2 separate regions of the Homo sapiens genome follow, and region 1 is linked to region 2. Evidence: fine-mapped expression QTL. A gene starts in region 2. The other region holds a variant in brackets. All regions are shown on one strand. Distances are between the middles of the regions. Region 1 overlaps LOC124904094. Region 2 holds the start of METRNL (meteorin like, glial cell differentiation regulator).

What was found.
Region 1: its variant is fine-mapped to the expression of METRNL in whole blood (TOPMed, PIP 0.98).

What each region holds. Positions count from the first base shown.
Region 1 is chr17:83,053,279-83,063,094 of GRCh38, forward strand. LOC124904094 reads left to right here. Exons shown (of 4, transcript XR_007065967.1): 2 at 6,070-6,113; 3 at 6,407-6,511; 4 at 6,878-7,887. Among named protein-coding and RNA genes, the nearest start is that of QTGAL, 6.4 kb to the left of the region's middle. The variant T/C (reference allele first, on the strand shown) is at 4,895.
Region 2 is chr17:83,075,559-83,085,374 of GRCh38, forward strand. It overlaps METRNL (meteorin like, glial cell differentiation regulator), which reads left to right and starts at 4,051. Exons shown (of 4, transcript NM_001004431.3): 1 at 4,051-4,427; 2 at 9,380-9,765. The coding sequence starts at 4,258. RefSeq lists silencers at 6,020-6,239, 6,235-6,529 and enhancers at 6,021-6,603, 7,197-7,756, 7,757-8,315, 9,215-9,742.

The DNA of each region.
Region 1 (9,816 bases), 22 kb before region 2:
GGAACCCCAGCAGTTCTGAACTTGTCAAGGGAGCAGCCTGCCATGAGGGGTCTCCCAGGCGGCTGTGAGGCCTCTGGAAACTCCCTGCTTGGAGGAGGTTGACTGGGGACAGGGCCGTGGGGGTCAATAAAAAGGACTGCTGCCATTAGCCCTGGGCTGCCTGCACACAGAGATTAAGCCCGCTTGGGATTTGTTCCAGCTGATCTGAAGTAATGAGTAATTCACAATTAATGAGCATGGCTGTAAGCAGCCCTTCCTGGACAAATCCTTGGCTGTCCAAAACTAAGATTAAATGCAAATCATTCTGTCAATTAACCGTTACAACAAAGCCAAACTTCTGTTAAGCATCACTTCATAGATGGTTTTTTTTCCCTTAAATTGCCTCCTTGTTTGCAAAGCCTGTTTTACAAGTGGACTGCTTAAGTCACATGAGTGAAAATGCAGCCTTATTTACCGTTCAGCAAAAGCTATCTGAGAATTTGCTTCCAGGGACTTCATGTTCTCCAGAGGTTGGGGTACTAGGAATCATTTCATTGTAAAGGACTCAGTAAAAAGTAGCCCTGTAGCTGCCAGAATGCGCCGTAGGCTCATGATAAGGTAGGTGGTAAGGGCCAGAGGTCAGGGGTCACAGATGGCTTCTGCCCCTCCACAGCACATGGTGTCCAGAACTGGGCTTGCCTCTCACCTTCCTTCCTGTACATTTCCTGGTGCCAGAAATTTGCTTTTCACTGACTTCCCCCTAATTCAAATTTGATTAGAATCTCCTTTTTGGGAACATTCAAAGTGCCAAGGTGCGTTTCAGAAATGCAGGGTTGCAGAGGTGGGGTCCTGAAATCCAAGGGTGGTGGGGCCTGAGATCACTGCCCTCGCAGTAGGAAGATCCTCGGGGAGAGGTCAGCAGAGGGCCCGGACAGAAGGCACTGACACTGTACCCTGGAGAGAGACAGGAAGGAGGACCTGGGGCCTCAGAGCTGGCCGGGTGGAGATCGTGTGGTCTTCGTTCAGAGGGAAGTGAGGTGCTGATGAAAGATGATTGACGTCACGTGGGCACCAGCAGAGGAAGTGACACAAAACGCCCCACAGCTTTGGGTTCACTGAGTGGGCAGTTGTATTTATTTATTTTATTTTATTTTTGTAGAGATGGGGTCTTGCTGTTGCCCAGACTGGTCTCGAGCTCTTGGCCTCCCAAACTGCTGGGATTACAAGTGAGAGCCATTGCAGATAGCCAGTTTTCTTTATTTTTAATTGTTGTTTGTGCAAAAGGTTTTGGCGAATACTGGCTATATTCAGAGGACTCAGTACCAGTTGCCAGGGGCCTGGAGTAGGTGCTGTGGTCTCAATGTGTGTGTCCCCCCAAACCATATGTTGACACCTAACCCCCAAGGCGATGTGGTTAGGAGATGGAGCTTTAAGGAGGTGACTGGGCCGTGAGGGCTGTCCTCTCATGACGGACGAGTGCCCTTCAACGAGACTTGAAGGAGCCCTTCTGTCCCTTCCTCCACGTGAGGACACATAGAAGGTACCATCTCTGGGGAACAGGCTGTCACCAAACACCAAGTCTGCTGGCGCCTGGATCCTGGACTTCTCAGCCTCTACAACTGTGTGCAATACATTTCTACTGTTTATCAATCACATGGTCAGAGGTATTTTGTTACAGCAGCACAAATGGACCAAGACATCAGGTCTCCAAATCGAAGAACTTCTCAGCAGCCTTCAGTGCTGGGTGGGGAGACAGAGGTTCCCTGCAGGTCCCCACAGACAGTGTTAGACTCAGTGCTGGGTGGGGAGACAGAGGTTCCCTGCAGGTCCGCACGGACGGTGTTAGACTCGGTGCTGGGTGGGGAGACAGAGGTTCCCTGCAGGTCCGCACGGACGGTGTTAGACTCGGTGCTGGGTGGGGAGACAGAGGTTCCCTGCAGGTCCGCACGGACGGTGTTAGACTCGGTGCTGGGTGGGGAGACAGAGGTTCCCTGCAGGTCCCCACGGACAGTGTTAGACTCGGTGCTGGGTGGGGAGGTTCCCAGCAGGTCCGCACGGACGGTGTTAGACTCGGTGCTGGGTGGGGAGGTTCCCTGCAGGTCCGCACGGACGGTGTTAGACTCGGTGCTGGGTGGGTTGACAGAGGTTCCCTGCAGGTCCGCACGGACGGTGTTAGACTGGGTGCTGGGTGGGGAGGTTCCCTGCAGGTCCGCACGGACGGTGTTAAACTCGGTGCTGGGTGGGGAGGTTCCCTGCAGGTCCGCACGGACGGTGTTAGACTCGGTGCTGGGTGGGGAGACAGGTTCCCTGCAGGTCCCCACAGACAGTGTTAGACTCGGTGCTGGGTGGGGAGGTTCCCTGCAGGTCCGCACGGACGGTGTTAGACTCGGTGCTGGGTGGGGAGACAGAGGTTCCCTGCAGGTCCCCACAGACAGTGTTAGACTCGGTGCTGGGTGGGGAGGTTCCCTGCAGGTCCGCACGGACGGTGTTAGACTCGGTGCTGGGTGGGGAGACAGAGGTTCCCTGCAGGTCCGCACGGACGGTGTTAGACTCAGTGCTGGGTGGGGAGACAGAGGTTCCCTGCAGGTCCGCACAGATGGTGTTAGACTCGGTGCTGGGTGGGGAGACAGAGGTTCCCTGCAGGTCCGCACGGACGGTGTTAGACTTGGGGGACACTGGGTCCCCAGTAAGAATGATTCTGATGTGAGTGCAGCTAGTGAGGGCTGAGTTCAAGCTTTAAAGACAAGAGCCCAACAGGTTCCTTCAACAGCCTGATCCCCTAGACCTTCGTGTGTCCAAGTCTCCAGAGGGGATGAACCTCAACAGACCTGGTTCGACCTCCCCTAGGCAGTGGGTGCTGCCTGGAGGGCAGGGTCGCTCGAGACTGTAGGAGACTCTGCACGTGGTGACCATAGCACCCCCATAATAAAGCAGCCCGTGAGGGCAGCCTGGCTGTTCGGCGATGTGTGCACTGAGGTCATCTCTCCTACTCTGTCTCAGCTATTTAAAGGCTGTGACTCACCATGTGGATTTAATGACTTATTAAGGAGTTGCAGCCCATGCTTTTTAAAAAAGTAATCTACAAAAAAATAAATGAAAAAGTCTTCAGGACAGTAGACTTAAGTGCGGATGTGGTCCCTCGAGTTCCATTTTTCAGCCGCCCACATTCCTGGGATTCAGACCTGTTGGGGATTGTAGGATTCTAGTTGCACAGGGAAACCCAGAGTCAATTCAGGAGGATAATTCTGAGCCAGGGGTGGGGGTACCGGCCTGGAGCTCCGGGGGGTACGGGCTGATCCTACGAAAGGAAAGTCAAGCCTGTGAATTGCAGAGCCTGGACAGAGAAGTTGAGGTGACGGCGTTCTGCAGATCCGTGAAATTCTATTACACGTCAGAGGGAAGGGACGGCCTCATGTGGCCCCTTGGAGGGACCAAGCCCTACCCAGCGCCTTGCCCAAGTCAGCACGCAGTCAGTGTTGGCTCCACCCACCTGCACCGTCAGGCCTTCTGGAAAGAGAAGGAGATCCGACTGACGGAGCGTCTCCAAACTTCCAAGCAAATATTACCTCGTTAAAGCCCAGTGCCACATGACTGACCTGGAGCCACAGCCTGCCCTCCTTCCCTGGGCCTACAGGAAGGGGGAGGTTCCTGTCACCAGAACCGTTCCGTCATCAGCCGGGCAGATGCTCGCTGTGGATTCTAGGTGAGCATCAAGTACTAGGGACCATGTTTGTCTTGGATTCCCCCGTCCCGCCTGAGCCCAGAACGCAGAGCCGGAGTCAGGGGCTTGCACATGGAGCGTTTCACGCCCAGGAGGCTGGGGCAGGGGCCAGGAAGGAGCGGGGAGGGGGCCAGGACCAGCGTGCTCTGCTGAGGGTCCACATCGAGGGCTGGACCCTGGACCTCCACAAGCCTGGAGAATTCTCCATCCGAGCAGTGAGGAGCCCCTGCTTGTTGTCAGCTGGAGCTGCGCCTCGGGGCTTCTGCTGTCCTGGCCCTGGGGTGGTGACTGCAGGATCCCACAGGTGTCCCGAGGCCTGAGGCTCTTCTCACTGCAGAGGCCACCCTGCAGGAATTGGAGTTAGGACCCGGAGGGTGGGACAGGCTGACTCAGAGGAGCCAGCTCTCAGGTTGGCAGGAGGAGGAGATGCACAATGAGACAGCAGCCTCACCTCCAGGGGACGGCCCCGCAAGCCGGAGCTGCCCTCCTGCACACTCAGCACTCAAGGTGGATTTGGAGGTGACCTAAGCCCACAGCTCTCCAAGTCTTGGGGAAATCTACAGTGGATGGCAGGTGCCTGCGGACGCCGAGTGGGTGCGGCCCCAGTTATGCTCAATGCAGGGGCACCTGTGTTGTTAGCAGCTGACGTGGACGGGAAAGGCCTGTGCTGAACAACGTTCCGTGTTCAATTAGACACTCTCCTCCTAAACAGGGGCGGAAGACGTCTCATGGGGGTTCCAAGCGTGATTTATGGAACTCACTCCCATGAGATAACATAACATTTTTCACACGTGGGAGAAAGGGCTGGGCTCGACTGGTGCCTGAGTGAATGCTGAGGATAAATGGGAAGCAGGACATTCCAGGGCACCTCTGCGTCTTGCATGAGACCTTGTGAGGGCCCTGTGGTGCCCCTGATGTCACTGTCGAAGGTGGAGCCGCCCCCGCTCTGCCTCGGCCTCCCTCAGATGTCCTCCCCAGCTGGCCCTGCAGCGCACGTGGAAGACAGCTGCCGAGAAGCAGGTGTGATGCCAGCCTGTGGGAGAAGCCACATCTGGACAGTGCGTGAAGCCAGTCCAGGGGCCACACCGGGACCTGCCCTCAGCTCTGCCACGTCCTGGCCAAGTGGCCTTGGCATGCCAGCCCTGGTGTCCACAGAGGCATCCATTCCTCATGGCAAAGTGGAGTCAAGTCGGC[T/C]GATGCAGGCGAGACACCTGGCCGGCCTGGGGAGCCGCACCAGCGCTCCCCACATTGCACTGCTGACTGAGGGGTGCTCGGTGCCGCGGCTTCACACGGTCAGTGCACAGACATGAACGCTGGACTGAGAAGCCGCCGCGTGCACCTGGCCCGCCAAGTTGCCAGGGAGGCAAGGGTGGTGTTGACGTGGATCACCGAAGGAGCTGGCAGCCCAGCCGTCCCCGTGACTGGATGGAATCCGCAAGCGTTCCTGGGCATCCACTCTGGGAAGGGCTCAGTGCCAGGGCCTAGGGTAGTTTTCAAATTGCAGGTTGTGGCCAGTATACCAGGGGTCATGGGGTCAGTACACTGGGCTCTGACTGGCAATTCCTAAAGATGAAGTGTGAGTCTGTCCCATATAGTAAGAGCTGCATTGATTTGTAAAGCTTGTGTTGGTTTTGCACGTTCTATGCCAGTGTGTGCTGGACCGTGATAGAAAGCGCATTTCTCGCTGTGGTGCCTGCCGTAGTCTGGAGGGAAAGATGAGTCCGTGGCTCTAATGTGGGGTGGTGGGTGTGGTCTACACAGGGAGAGCGAAGAGCCCACATGGGGCATGAGAGGGGCCGGAGAGGCTGGGGCAGGGGAACCCGGGCCAGGTCCTGAGAACAAATGGGGTTATTCAGCTCCTAAAGGTGCAGGACTCAGCCCAAAGTCCCTGGTGACCCAAAGAGGACCATGTGAGTCTGATGTGGCTGTGGAAGGCGGGGCTCACAGCAGGCTGCCGGGGCACCATTAATGGGGGAGGGTCCTGTCCCCAGCGCATACGTAGACGGCCCTTCAGAACCTGCTCAGTGGTCAGTGCGGCCGTGCAGCTGCACCCCGGCCTGGTCACCTGTGCTGTGCCCAGCAAGGAAGATGCCCCCGCTCAGCCCGTCCATGCACCCTCCAGAGGCTGTCAGCTGCCTGAGACCCACACTGGCTCTTGCAGGCTAGAGGAGAGTTCAATGGCCATTCGGGCCCTGTCGCCATGGAAACACCAACTTTGGGTACCAAAAGCCTGAATGTACAAATTCATGGAGTATGACCTGCCTGGTGCCAGTGGGTCTTTGCATTTTTCTGGGGTGCCAGTGGGTCTTTGCGTTTTTCTGGGGTGCCAGTGGGTCTTTGCGTTTTTCTGATGCCCTCTGAACTCTTAGGTCCCGGTTCTGGCGGATTTGGCCCAGGCACCCCCAGCCCCCAGGTAGGAGGCACAACCCTGCTCCCAATGCCCAACACCTGCCCCCAATGCCCAACACCTGCCCCACACACCTGAGGTACCTCCTGGGCGTCCCACACCAGGACAGGCCTGGAGACTTCCAGCCACTGCCACCTGGCACACCCAGCACCTGCAGATCCACCACCTTAAAACCCACCTCTACTGCCCCATGTCACGGTCCCTGCGGGGCCAGGCCTGCCTGGCACGTCCACCCCGGGTCTCCCTGCCTCACCCTCTTGCGCATCCACAGTGAACAGGGGCATCTTTCCAAAATGCAGATCTGGCCGGGTGCGGCGGCTCATGCCTGTAATCCCAGCACTTTGGGAGGCCGAAGCAGGTGGATCACATGAAGTCAGAAGTTGGAGACTAGCCTGGCCAACATGGTAAAACCCCGTCTCTACTAAATGTATAAAAACTAGTGGGATGTGGTGGCGGCTAACTGTAATCCCAGCTTCTTGGGAGGCCGAGGCACAAGAATTGCTTGAACCCGAGAGGCAGAAGTTGCAGCAAGCTGAGATCTCACCACTGCACTCTAGCCTGGGCAACATAGCAAGACTCTGTCTCAAAAACAAACAAACAAAATGCAGATTGAATCCAGGCTCACCTGGTGACAGCTGTCCATATCCCCACCCTTTCAGGACAGCATGGCTGCCCTTTTGTGGGTGGTTCCAGCTACCCAGACCCTGTCCTTCTCAACACCCCCTCATTAAGGTAGGACCCTAAAGTGAATTCCTCCTTGTCCTTCAAAGCCAGCCTCCAGCATCGCCTCCTCTGGGATCTTCTCTGACTTCCCAGTCGGTTTCAGAAGCCTCTGATGACCCCATGCGGAGAAGACTGCTCCCCTCACTGCTGGCACACGGCAGATGCTCAGTAAGTATCGTTCAATGACTGACTAAATGTCTCATAATATCCTTCATAAACAAGGGCCTGGTGTGGATTCATAAATGGGTCTCTCAAAGTTTAATTGGTGAGACTCTGTTGTATCAGACAATGAAGGGTTAAAAGATAATATTCAAAAAAGTAAAATCATGACACACAAATCTAGAATGAACACACATTGATAAGGTTTGGATCTGTGTCCTCACCCAAACCTCATGTCGAACTGGGATCCCCCGTGTCAGAGGCGGCCGCGTGGGAGGTGACCGGATCGCGGGTGGACCCTTCATGAAGGGTTCAGCACCATCCCCTTGGTGCTGTCCTGGGACAGAGTTCTCTTGCGATCTGGTTGTTTAAACGTGTGTGGCCCCTTCCCCCTCTCTTTTCCTCCTCCTCCTGCCGTGGGAGACACTTGCTCCAGCTTCGCCTTCCGCCGCGAGTTGAAGCTCCCCGAGGCCTCCTCAGAAGCAGAAGCCACCACGCTTCCTGTACAGCCTGTGGGACCCGGAGCCAGTTCAACCTCTTTTCTTTATAAATTACCCAGACTCGGCCGGGCACGGTGGCTCACGCCTGTAATCCCAGCACTTTGTTGAGACCGAGGCAGGCAGATCACGAGGTCAGGAGATCGAGAACATCCTGGCTAACACGGTGAAACCCCGTCTCTACTAAAAATACAAAAAATTAGCCGGGCGTGGTGGCGGGCGCCTGTGGTCCCAGCTACTCGGGAGGCTGAGGCAGGAGAATGGTGTGAACCCGGGAGGCGGAGCTTGCAGTGAGCCGAGATCCCGCCACTGCACTCCAGCCTGGGCAGCAGAGCGAGACTCCATCTCAACAAATAATAATAATAAAATAAATAAATAAATAAATAAATAAATAAATAAATTGCCCAGACTCAGGTATTTCTGGATAGCGATGCGAGAATGGACTAATACACGTGTTAAGTCAAAAGTTTTATTTAACTTATTAATTCATGAGGGAAGCAGGAAGATATTAAAACTGGTTCAAAGGAAAATCCACAGGTTTAGGCAATCGAGCTGAAACGAACTTGCTAATACAGTCGTCCCCCGTATCCCCGACTTGAGTTGTCTGTGCTCAACTGCAGAAAACAGGTGAGTACAGCACAGTAAGATACCTTGAGAGAGAGGGAGATCCCACATTCACATAATTTTTATCACCATAGATTGTTGTAATTGCTGTTTATGATTGGTGATTGTTAATCTCTTACTGTGCCTATTTTACAAATTAAACTTTATCAAAGGGCTGTACATATAGGACAAAACATAGTCTATACAGGGTTCAACACTATCCAAGGTTTCAGGCATCCACTGGAGTGCTTGGAACGCATCCCCCAAGTCATCACCAAACCAGCCAATATCCACAGGGCCTGAAACCTCCCCTTTGGATTCTCTCTTCCATTGGTGGAAATCAGCCGTGTCTCCACTGACAAGTGTCCTTGCACCTCCGTGGGCTCCTGTGTGTGGCCGTCACCTTTCTGGTGTGCAGGGAACTGTCTCACAGCTCCATTAAAGATGAGGAAGGCGCCGATCACTGCAGCACCAGAGAACCCAGGGGTTCGCCTGGCCCCCCACTGAAAGGATGCCCAGAAACCTCCTCACCCATTTTAATGTCTTTCCCACATTTTCCTGATGAAGACTCAGCACAGACGCTCACAGCATCATTGGGCACAACTGGGTCTGGTGGCAGAAGGCCCGGAGGGTGCACGGCCCCCTCCTGAGGCAGGTGTGCGGTGCTGGGGAAAGGCGGAGCACGAGGGCTGAGCTCTGGCCGTGGGACCCACCCAGCAGTCTCCCCTCTGGGGCAGGGAGGGGCAGTGAGAGCGTGGGGAAGGCAGGGAGGGGAGCCCAACGGTCCACCCTGGGAGGAGCCATCAGCCCCCATCCCTCAACCAGGCGTCTCCACAGGCCACCAGGGCCATAAAGGCAGGTAGGACCCACACCTGCTGATGGGGAACTGCACCAGCAGCCACCCAGAAACCCGAGGCCTGTACGGTATTCCGTGCCGGGGAGGGCCAGCACTCAGCCCCCAGCTGCTTCCCTGAACCCCACGGTCTGAGGCTGTGTCAAAGCTTCCCCAGTGTTTCCTGGAAGACGCTCCTCCATGGATCCCTTGCTCCTGCCCATCTTGCTGGGCCAGGAATGCAAACTCCAATGGCTGCCCCGGGGTCGTTTCTCAGGGGGGTGTGCACGGGTGTGTGCACGGTGACCGATGCCTCTCTCTGGGACGAAGAGCTGGCACACTGTCTGCCTGCTGTACAGCAGCGGCTTCCCAGAGCTGAGGGCCTCTCCTGTGGGCAGTCCCCTGTGTGGGCAGCATCTGTCTGAGCCCCCGCACATCGCTGCTGGGGAAGGGGCTTGGGAGCCCACTCAAGGTGCTGACCCTCTGGTTCTGCTTTTGCTGTGAGTGATTAAGATCCTCTATCTCTGACCCCAGCAGTCTGGTGCTTCCTGCCAGCACCCACGAAACAGGCAGGCTTGTTAGCCCGAAAGTAAAATCTCAGGCCCCTGCACAGTTCAGACGGCATCCAGCACAGTTGGGGCTGGGCCCTGCCCTCACGACCGCCAGGGCCTGGGGTACCCTGACCAACTCCTAACTCCCAGGACCTGGCTCTGGGGCCATCTAGCCCAAGTTGTCCTAAGCTACGAAAGGCGATGAGGCAGCCCAGCTTATGAAGCTCTGGCTCATGCACAGACACACTTTACCCCTCCGTGCCTTAGGACTGTCCCCAGCACCTGCCTGTCCTTTTTGCAGGAGATCGTTCTGCTAAGTGGTCTCCAGCTCTGTGTCTCTAAAC
Region 2 (9,816 bases):
TCCATGTATCATTCAACCACAATTACGATAATTACGAGAAGGTTGGCGAAAATGGCCTGGGAGGGAAACGGGTGGCAAATGACTTGGGAGGTGGTGGTTGGGCGGGGCCGTGGGATGAACTGTGCTCACGTGAACGACAGACTGCGACGTTCTTCAGTATTTTTCAAATGCTGAAAGAGAAAATTTCATGGACGCGCTTGGGGAAACCGTGTGATGTTTTTCTGGAGGAATCCAGCTACTCTGGGAGGAGCTGTTTCTTTAGTGAGTGGATTCAGGTGACTGGTCATCTTGGGCAGCACATTGGCCGTCAACACACATTTGAAAACCTCAAGACTGGGCCAAAAATAAAAGCAGTAAAGTCCACCGGGTTGTGCCAGTGGCTCAGAGAACTCGCAGCTGTGGGGAGCACGGCGGGAGGGGTTCCCCCCACCCAGCCCCATGAGGGCCCCAAGGCCTGATGACAGCCCGGTGGTGCCTTGAACAGGTGAGAATCAGCCCCCACCTGGGGACGTGGCGTTGAATCCTGACATCGTAAACCCTACGACGCCCTGGGAATCAAGAACAGATCCACTTTGCAGGTAACTGAGGCTCAGAAACAGACTCCAACCCCACCATGTCTGTGACCCAGAGCTGGGGGCTGACGTCCGAGCCAGGTCCGTCCACCACCCCACAGGGCCTGTAGGCACCCGGCATAGGAAAGGCCGAGAAAGGGGTCCAGTCCCACAGCCCTCCACCCCAGCAAATTCCCAGGTGCTGGGTCCCTGCAATGCACGCGATAAAAACTCCCGGGTCAAATACACAGAGGTGACCCTGCCGAGGTCACTCGATCCTAACAGTGGGTCGTGGTCCTCGGACATGGGAGGCCACGTCCTGCTTTCTGAGGCCTCAGACCCTGGTGAGGCACAGAAGGACTGTCCAGGGTGCACCCAGAATTTTTTTCACGGACGTCTGCCCAGGAGGCTTCTGAGAGCTGTTTCTCGAGGGAATGGATAGATGAGGAAAGAGAGAGGGTTGATGTAGACCTACGGTTGGGCCACAGGCCCCCCTGGCCCAGGTCCCTTAGCTGCCATCTCCCAGGATGCAGAAGCATCACTGCAGGGCCCGCCGGTAGAGGGAATGGGCAGGCGTGATCCTGGTGGGTTCTGGAGCTCTCCGATTCCACGGCTCAGCCTCAACGTTCCGACTCAGGTAGGAAGTATCAGAGCTTCACGCAAAGCTGCGAAGACCAGCTCCTTCCCACGAGTGGGTGGGTGGGATGATGCTGTGGCCCCTTCCTGGGTCTAACCCCGTGACATGCTCACTGGGAAGCAGTCCCTTCCCAGACATCCAGGGACAAACACACCCAAGGCCCTTTCCTTGCAGACCCTCCCAGAGGACCAGGGGGAGGGCCACACACCATGACCAGCTGGGATCCTTTTGGTTCATAATCGGCCTCTCGGGGTCTGGTGGTACAAGGGGCAGTGTACCAGTGGCTGGGAACACCCCCAGACAGCCTTGACCACCTCAGCCTGCATCCTCTAGGAGCCTGATACCTCCTGACACCAGGAACCCCGTCTACAGGGGACGTCTCACCTGTAGGTGGCCTCGCTGGGCCAGGACAGGGGTCAGCAGAGGTGCCCAGGAGCACCCAATGTCTCTGGGGCATGAACCTCCTCAAGGGAACAGCTTGGGGAACCACAGCCCCAGGGTGGAAAGGGCCAGGCTCCTTTCCCAAGACAGATTAGCTTCTTCCGAGAATACTGGCCAGCAAGCATTCTTACTCTAGTTTTGTTTTGTTTTAATTAGCAGACTTAATGTTTTAGGTTTACAGAAACACCAAGCAGATGGTAGAGGTCCCCCACACACCCTCTCCCTGACCCAGTTTCTCTTATGATTACCTTCTCTCATTAGGGTGTAGGCGTGTGACAGTCAAAGAACCAATATTGATCCGTTATTATTACAAATGTCTCAAGCCTCCATCAGGATTCACTCTTGTGCTGTATTTTCTACGGGTTTTGAAAAGTACACGTGGGTCCCATACTCACCATCGTACGATCCCAGTCTTAGGACAGCCCGCTGGGCACAGGAGGCTGGGCATCCTGCCAGGTGGCAGATCTCTGCCCCAGCCTAGGCTGGAACCAGCTGCCTGCTGACCAGAGGCGGCCTCTCCCCTTCGGTCTAGCAGCCACCAGGGGCTCTGAGACCCTGAGCAGGTCACGGCAGGTCCTGAGTTCCCCATGTCCGCATCTATAACTCAAGAGATCCCAGCACTGCCCTGCCTCTTCCGTGGTGTGATGATCTGGACCCTGATAGGCCATGTGGCCCTTCAAGGGTGGACCGGGCCTGGGGGGGCTGCTATCTTATGCTTGGTGGGCATGGAAAGCAGTTGCTGCGCACAGGTGTGAAGCCGCAGGTCCCTTTCCACAGCAGGTCCCTTTCCACAGCAGGTCCCTTTCCACTGGGCACCCTGGTACCTGCAGTGATGGGGGTGGGGGGAGGTGCACTCCTAGAGCAGACGGGGGTGGGTGGGGCAGTCTCCAAGCTCCGAAATGCACCTCCACCAGACCTTGAGCCTCAGGGTGATGTCACTTGATGTGCTGGGCAAGGTCCTGGCTCCAGGCTTTCGATGGGGTGGGTGCTCTGAACAGATCCTTACAATGAAACTACCTTCAGTGGTCACTGTCATCGCCTTCCAGTTCTTCAGACCCTCACCCTTGTCCCAGCTTTCCTGGGCTGGGGGCTGGGCTCCACCTGCCTTTGCCGGTGACTTCCGTCCCTGCAGACTCACAATTTTCAAAGCCCTCTCCCCGCCTCCTCTGGTAGTCACAACCCAGTTATTCAGACTTGCACAGGTCGTTCGCAAGTCCTCCTGGAAGGTATCTTGGCTGGAAAAGGGGACAAGGCCAAGCTTCCCCACCGCTGGATGCTGCGCTCGGCTCTGGAACTGACACCAGGCGTCTCGGGCAGGGCCACTGACCCGCAGCACACAGAAGCCAGCTTTGCCATCGCAGCGGGGACCGCCGGGCGGGCCAGCTCCGCCCTCTCCTGCCTGGGGGGCCCTCGGCACCCTCTGGCTCCCCTTCTCTGGCCTGAGTCTCTAGGGCCTCCCCAGTCCGGGCGGGGGTCTCCGCTGTCCCCCCCACTGGGTCAGGCACGTGGTGGCCGCGGTGACCACCTGGGGAAGGCGCCGACTCCGAGGAACACACTCGAGCAGGACGCTCCGCAGGTGATTCTGCCCCGCGGGCACGGGGTGGGGGCGGGATTTGGCCAAATCTGCAGAGAGTTTAGGTTGTCAAAGCTGGGGCGGGGGTTGCTACTGATACCCAGAGTGCGGGGGCCAGGGTGCTGCCAACATCCCACCATGCGCAGGACGTCCCCACCCCAAGAACCACCCGGCCCCGCGTATCCGGAGCGAGGAGTGGGCAGCGCTCGGCAGAGGCCCCGGCGCGGCGGCTGCACGTCCTCCGGGAGGAGGGAGGGAAGCCGGGCTCACCGCCGGGCCTCCCCCCCGGTCAGGAGGGAGCCGGGAACTCCCGAGGCACCAACTCTGCGGAACGCGGGGCGCCCGGATCGCCCCTGATCACCGCCCGCTGGCGAGGCGCGGGGGACCCAGAACCGGCGGGGCCGGGAGCCTCCTTTACCGCTCCGCGCCGGGGCTGCCCGCAGGATGGGGCGCAGGATGGGGCGCAGGATGCGGCCCCGGCACCGCCTCGCGGGGGTCTGCGGGGGGCGACCGCGGCTCGCGTCGGCCACTACTTGGGGGTCTCGGGTTTCCGCCCCGCCCTCGCCTTGCAACCCCTCCGGCCCCGGACTCCGCTTTCCAGGCCGGGCTCTTCCCTCCGGACCCCGCTCGCCGCCCGGCGCGGCCCCCTCCTCCTGCAGCGCCCCCCGCCCCGGCGCCCGCGCCCCCGATTCGCTGCTGACTCGGTGTCTGCGCGTCCGGCCGGGCGCCCCGGGAGGAGTTTCCGGCGCGGGGCGGGGTCGGGGGCGGGGTCGGGGGCGGGGCGGGGCGGCGGGTGGGCCCCACCCCCCAGCTGAGCCCGGCCGGGCGGACTCGGACTCGCCAACTTCAGAGGCTCGGCGGCGGCGGCGGGCGCGGAGCTCTGCGCGCGGCTCCAGCGGGCCGGGATGGGCGGGCGGCCGCGCGGAGGACGCGGGGGGCGCGCGACGTGACCACCCGGACTCGAAGCCCGCCCCGCCCCCGCCCGGCTCGCCGGCTCCGGGGTCTGCTCCGGGGGTCGCGGACGCGGGGCCGGGCGGCGGAGCCGGCGCCAGAGCATGCGGGGCGCGGCGCGGGCGGCCTGGGGGCGCGCGGGGCAGCCGTGGCCGCGACCCCCCGCCCCGGGCCCGCCCCCGCCGCCGCTCCCGCTGCTGCTCCTGCTCCTGGCCGGGCTGCTGGGCGGCGCGGGCGCGCAGTACTCCAGCGACCGGTGCAGCTGGAAGGGGAGGTGAGTGTGCGCGGCGCGACCCCGGCCCGGCCCCCTCCCCTCGCGTCCCCTCCCGTCCCGGGCCGGCCGAGCGTGCGGGGGCGCGGCCGGGGGCGGGCGCGGGGCAGGGGCTCCGGGGGCCGCTCTCCAGGCCCAGTCCGGTGCCCGCTGTCCCCCGCCCCCGGTTCTAGAACAAAAGAGCCCGCGGCGTCCCGGTTCCCGGCCCGGAGGACGCCCGGGGGAGGCGCGCCTGCAGCGCGGCCGGGTGGGTCCCGGCTCCGCGCGTGTCCGAGCCTCGGGGGCCGCCGGTCCCGCGACCCCATCCCGGGGGCAGGCGGGGGTCGGTCCTCGGGCCCTTCCTGGCAGGCTCCGGGAGTTGCGCGCCCCGAGGCCGCCCCGGGCCAGAGCGGGAAGGGACGGCCGCGGGAGGGAGCGGCGGTTTCGGGGATCGGGCGCGGACCGCAGCGGGGGCCACTTCCGTCTCGGGGAGCCGCGGGCGGGCACCTGTGAGCCGGGCCGAGTGTGGCTCCGGCCGGGCCCCCCGCCCCTGCCCCGTGAAGGTCAGGCCGCCCTTGGCCGCGGCGCGCGCTGCGCTGGGCGACCCCCCCCCCCCCCACCCGCGGTGGCGGCCGAGGACTTTTTTTTTTTTTTTTTTTTTTTGACTCAAGCGTGGCCGCCGAGAGCGGCGCCGACCGCGACTGCCCCTCGGGAGCCGCCGCCGCTCCCACGCGAAGCCCAGGGCGCCGAGGGCACCGCGGCCGAACCCGCCCTGCGCGAGCCTCGCAGTCGCCAGTTCCGGGGTTCGCAGATGCGCGGGGACCCGAGTGACGCGCGCCTCCCGGAGAGCCGTGGCCGGGCTGGCCCGGGCCTGGGTCCCGCTTCCCCTCGGCGCGGCCCCCGCCCCCGCCCCCGCCCCCGCCGCGGGCCGAGTCACGCGGTGATGTCGAGCGAAGCTGTTTTCCGAGAAGGTCGGGGCAGAGCCGGTGCGGGGCGGGTGGTGTCCGCGGGGCGGGCGCAGGTCTCCCCGCAGCCGCAGCCTCCGTTCCGGGTCCCCGCGAAGCCACAGTCGCCCCCCAGCGCCCCCGGCGGAGCCTCCCCGGGGGAAGGGGCGTGGCGCTGGGGGGCAGAGTCGCCCCGAGGGCCGTGGGCGGTGCCCGGCTGTCCCGGGAGCGGCCGCCTCCCTTCTCGGCCGAGCGGGGCCGCGGGCGGATGGAGGTCTGGGGGGGGTCGGCCGGGAACGCCGGCGCCGGGAGCCTCCGAGGCCGACGGCTCTTCTGGGGCCGCCCCTGCCCCCGCGGAGTGATTCAGCCCCGGCTCGCTGCCTCTGCCCGGCGGGTCGGTGCATCCCCGAACCGAGGCCCGGGGCGTTCCGCTCCAGCAGACCGAAGCCAGAAACGCCGCCCCCGCCACCCAGGCCGAGTGTGTCGAGAAGGGGCCGGCGCCCTTTTCAGGGTGTCAGGGGACTGTGTGCCCGGTAGGAGGGGGCGCCTCCCGGAGCCCGAAGGGAGGGCGCGGTAGGCAGCCGAGGGTGGCGGGGAGGCCACCCCTCCACCTCCAGGGGCGGGCGGCTCCTCCAGGCAGGTGACAGCAGCGGGACAGGAGTGCTTTGCCCTCCAGGACCTGCGCACCCTCCTGTCTACCTGGAGGCCCTCTTCGCCATCGTTGCCAGTCCTGGCCTCAGACTCCCCAGAGGGGACCCCCCCACACACACACACAGGGGACCCCCCCCAACACACACACACCTGCAGAGCCTGGCAGAGGGCAGCTGTGGGGGCTGCTGGAGCTGCGGGTGTGATCTGGAGGGGACACGGGGCCCGGCTGTGTTTCTGGGGCGTAAGTGAGACTTCCTTTTGTTGTGGTCACTGCCCCGTTGATCCACACACGTCACGAATCAGTGACAGAGACTCGCTGTGGAAACCGGAGTGCGCTGGCCTGCCTGCTACCCTCCGGTGTTTGTGACTTTTTACCAGCTGTCCTGACGAAGCACAGGGTGGAGCGAGCGCTGGTGTGCTGGGTGGATTCTCATCCCCCGATAGCTGGAAAGTTGCCCCTCATGACACTGGCCACTGCATCGACGGCCTCTGTTGCTGGGTGTTTCTTCTAAGCAGTTAAGTAGGAGATGATGAAACCTCCCTTCCGTGGGGGGAGGCGGGACCAGCGCCCCGTCTTTATCAGCCAGTGCTCATAAATGTGGACCATGAACTTTCCCACTTGCTGTCAGCCCGGGCATCGCAGGTGCGGTCACACCTGGTTCGTCTCTCCTGCAAGGTGGGGAAAGGAAAGTTAACCTGCCAGTGGGTTCGAAGCCCTTCCTGACTTTCATACAGGAGCCGGGCATTTTGTCCTGGTGACCCAGAGTTGTGGTGTGTGGGCTGGTGCCTCAACAACCCTCCAGTGCACCTGCGCCCCCCTTCAGTGAGTCCCTTTATCCACTTGGGATTTGCCCTCCTTTCCATGAAGGTGCCCCACAAGCATGTCCACCTGGGTGGTAACCCTTGCTGACTTTTAAAAGTGTATCTGTTCAGTCTGTTGATCCAACATCAGATCAGCCTTGTCAGTTTCCTAAAGTTGAACGAACCACGGTTTTGTCTGCACGCTTCAGTTTTATCACAGCAGAACTGTGTCACCTGCATCTCACGTGAAAATCACAAAATGCCCTCATCCATGACCATTAAAGATAGGTCACATTTTTGCAATGCCAGCAATTTTGCATAAACAGACTCTGTTTTCAGGTTTGCTGAGGTGCTGGATATTTGGAGGTGAGAGATTTGAGGCACTCGATTTTCTGGTAGGAACCAGCACAGACCATGAGTCTCGGACTTCGTGCCGAGGTCTGCTGGGTCCCAGGCTGAAGGATGCATCGTTTAACTTTTTTTGTCTACACGGGTCTTGCGCATCATGTGCTACTGATTTTAATGTGAAAATCCCTACGTCAGCGGGTCTGGTTGGAGTCCCGTTGGTCTGGATGTTTCGGGAGAATGTGAGAGGAGAGGGGAGCAGGCCCTGTGCTGGGTGCAGACCCGTCTGAGTGCGCTGAGAAGACGTCAGGTGAAGGCCGGGGTAGCCGGGTGTCTTCTTTCTTCTGTGTCCACCTTCATTTTGTCCTCTTCCTCTTTTTGCCCAGTGTCTTCTGAGTGGGTGGAGCCAGGCGTGCCCACCAGATGCGGGTAGCATGTGCTAGGCCAGGACGGCCCCCAGGCTCAAGTCGGCCTCCTCCTGGGCAGAGGTGGGTTGGCCGCCTGTCCCCAGCTGAGTTGTGGCTGTTCCCCTCGCCTGCTCAGATGAAGGCAGTGCTGTCAGAGGTGACCAGAGCCCGCTCCCTCGACCTTCAGGACTCCCCGAGAGGGAGGCAACGTGTCAGGACGGTGTATGTGGAGAGAGGGTCGAGGCTCGGTGCCTGAGCACGGGCAGGAGGACAGTGGCCTCGATGCCAGAGACGGGAGGGAGAGACGTGACGATGAGGCTGCATAAGAAGAGAGCTGACTGTAGCTGAGTGTATCAGCCACTCACCGAGTCCAGTTTCCACACAGCACGATCATCGTGCCCTTGCCCACACACGTGTTAGATGAGCTTGTGTGAGCTTTATGGGCTGTAATTTGTGAGTCTGTTCTGGGTGTGTGATCCTGGCAGCCGGCTAGGCCTGGCCACTCGTGACCTGGGGCCTTGTCGGGGTGGGGAGAGGGTGAGGAGGGGTGCACCCTCGACACCACCCTCTGATGTGGCCTGCAGCCTATGAAGAGTGAGGTTTGGGGGCCCAGAGTGTGAGTCACCAGCGGTAAATGCAAACCATATGTGATGCATTTTCTCTGCTGCAGAAAGGGTTTCTGGTGACTCGCTCAGGCCAGGGCTCTGGAAACAGCATTGCTTATTTCACATAAAAATCCTAAGAATGTGGGTGAACCTGTCTGAGATCTGCGTAATAAAACACTTAGTTGAAGTCACCGGGTTAGTTCCAGGCCCACTTGGTTATGACGTGGCTGTTAGCCACGAGCTGGCATTTACGTTAAAGTGTTGAGAAGCGTGAGGGTTTTGATGTTTCAGTTTCTTGAAAATATAACTGTTTCTACTCAGGACCTGCCTCTCCAAGAGTGTAGCACACTTCATTTTTTTCTGTTTAGCATGTATGAGGGTGAACTTAGCTTGCTACTCACACACTACTCACCCTGTGGAGGAAGTTCGCCTCGCTTTTGTGGTGAGTCTTGCTGTAATGATAGCTTATATTTACAAATACCGTCGGCAGTGCAGGGTCTTCAGGCTTGCAGAAAACGGTCAAGTCATTACTTTGAGAAATGTACAAACATCTATGCTTAATGAGGTGCTAAAAGACAAAACTCATCTACAACCTCCTTCCCCCCAAACTGCCAACACTCTGGATTAACTTAAAAGCTGCTCTCTGGGCAGGTTGCATCCCAGGGCTCCTCCTTCACACGTGGTGGGGCCCCACCTTCGCTTTACCTCTAGCGTCCCAGCCCTCGTGGTCATCTGGAACCAGGGTTGGTACACAGGGCCTGCTGGCATTCCTGTGATACTCCGTGATATTCTGGAGGAATCCATCCCTTCCCTGGGGCTCCATCCCACTGCCCCAGCACCTCCAGCCACCCTGATTCAGGGACATCGCAGAGATTGGTGTTTGACGCTACGGCAGCAGAGGCGCAGACTCTTGAGTGTTGGAGGGTGTCTGGAGGGCCTGGGGACAAGCACCGCCTGCACTCCCGGGAGCTCGGCCCCGCCCCACCATGGCTCTTGGTGCAGGTGCACTGGAAGGAACTGGGTGGGGCCCTTGTGCCGAAGGGCGGAGATGGCGCCGGCCTGCCTCACGGGCAGGGGTCCGTGTGGCACCTGTGGCCGGCAGCGGGTGGGTCCAGGAGCCGCCATCATTTGGAGCGGGTATCGTCCTCACTGACTCTCTGTGGGTGCGGGTGGGGTGTGTGACGGGAGCTCCGGGCCTGGCTGACAGTGTCTCTCCTCTGCAGCGGGCTGACGCACGAGGCACACAGGAAGGAGGTGGAGCAGGTGTATCTGCGCTGTGCGGCGGGTGCCGTGGAGTGGATGTACCCAACAGGTGCTCTCATCGTTAACCTGCGGCCCAACACCTTCTCGCCTGCCCGGCACCTGACCGTGTGCATCAGGTCCTTCACGGACTCCTCGGGGGCCAATATTTATTTGGAAAAAACTGGAGAACTGAGACTGCTGGTACCAGACGGGGACGGCAGGCCCGGCCGGGTGCAGTGTTTTGGCCTGGAGCAGGGCGGCCTGTTCGTGGAGGCCACGCCGCAGCAGGATATCGGCCGGAGGACCACAGGCTTCCAGTACGAGCTGGTTAGGAGGCACAGGGCGTCGGACCTGCACGAGCTGTCTGGTGAGTGTCCTGCCTGGGGCGGGGGCGGCGGGCCTCGTCATCACGGGGCTG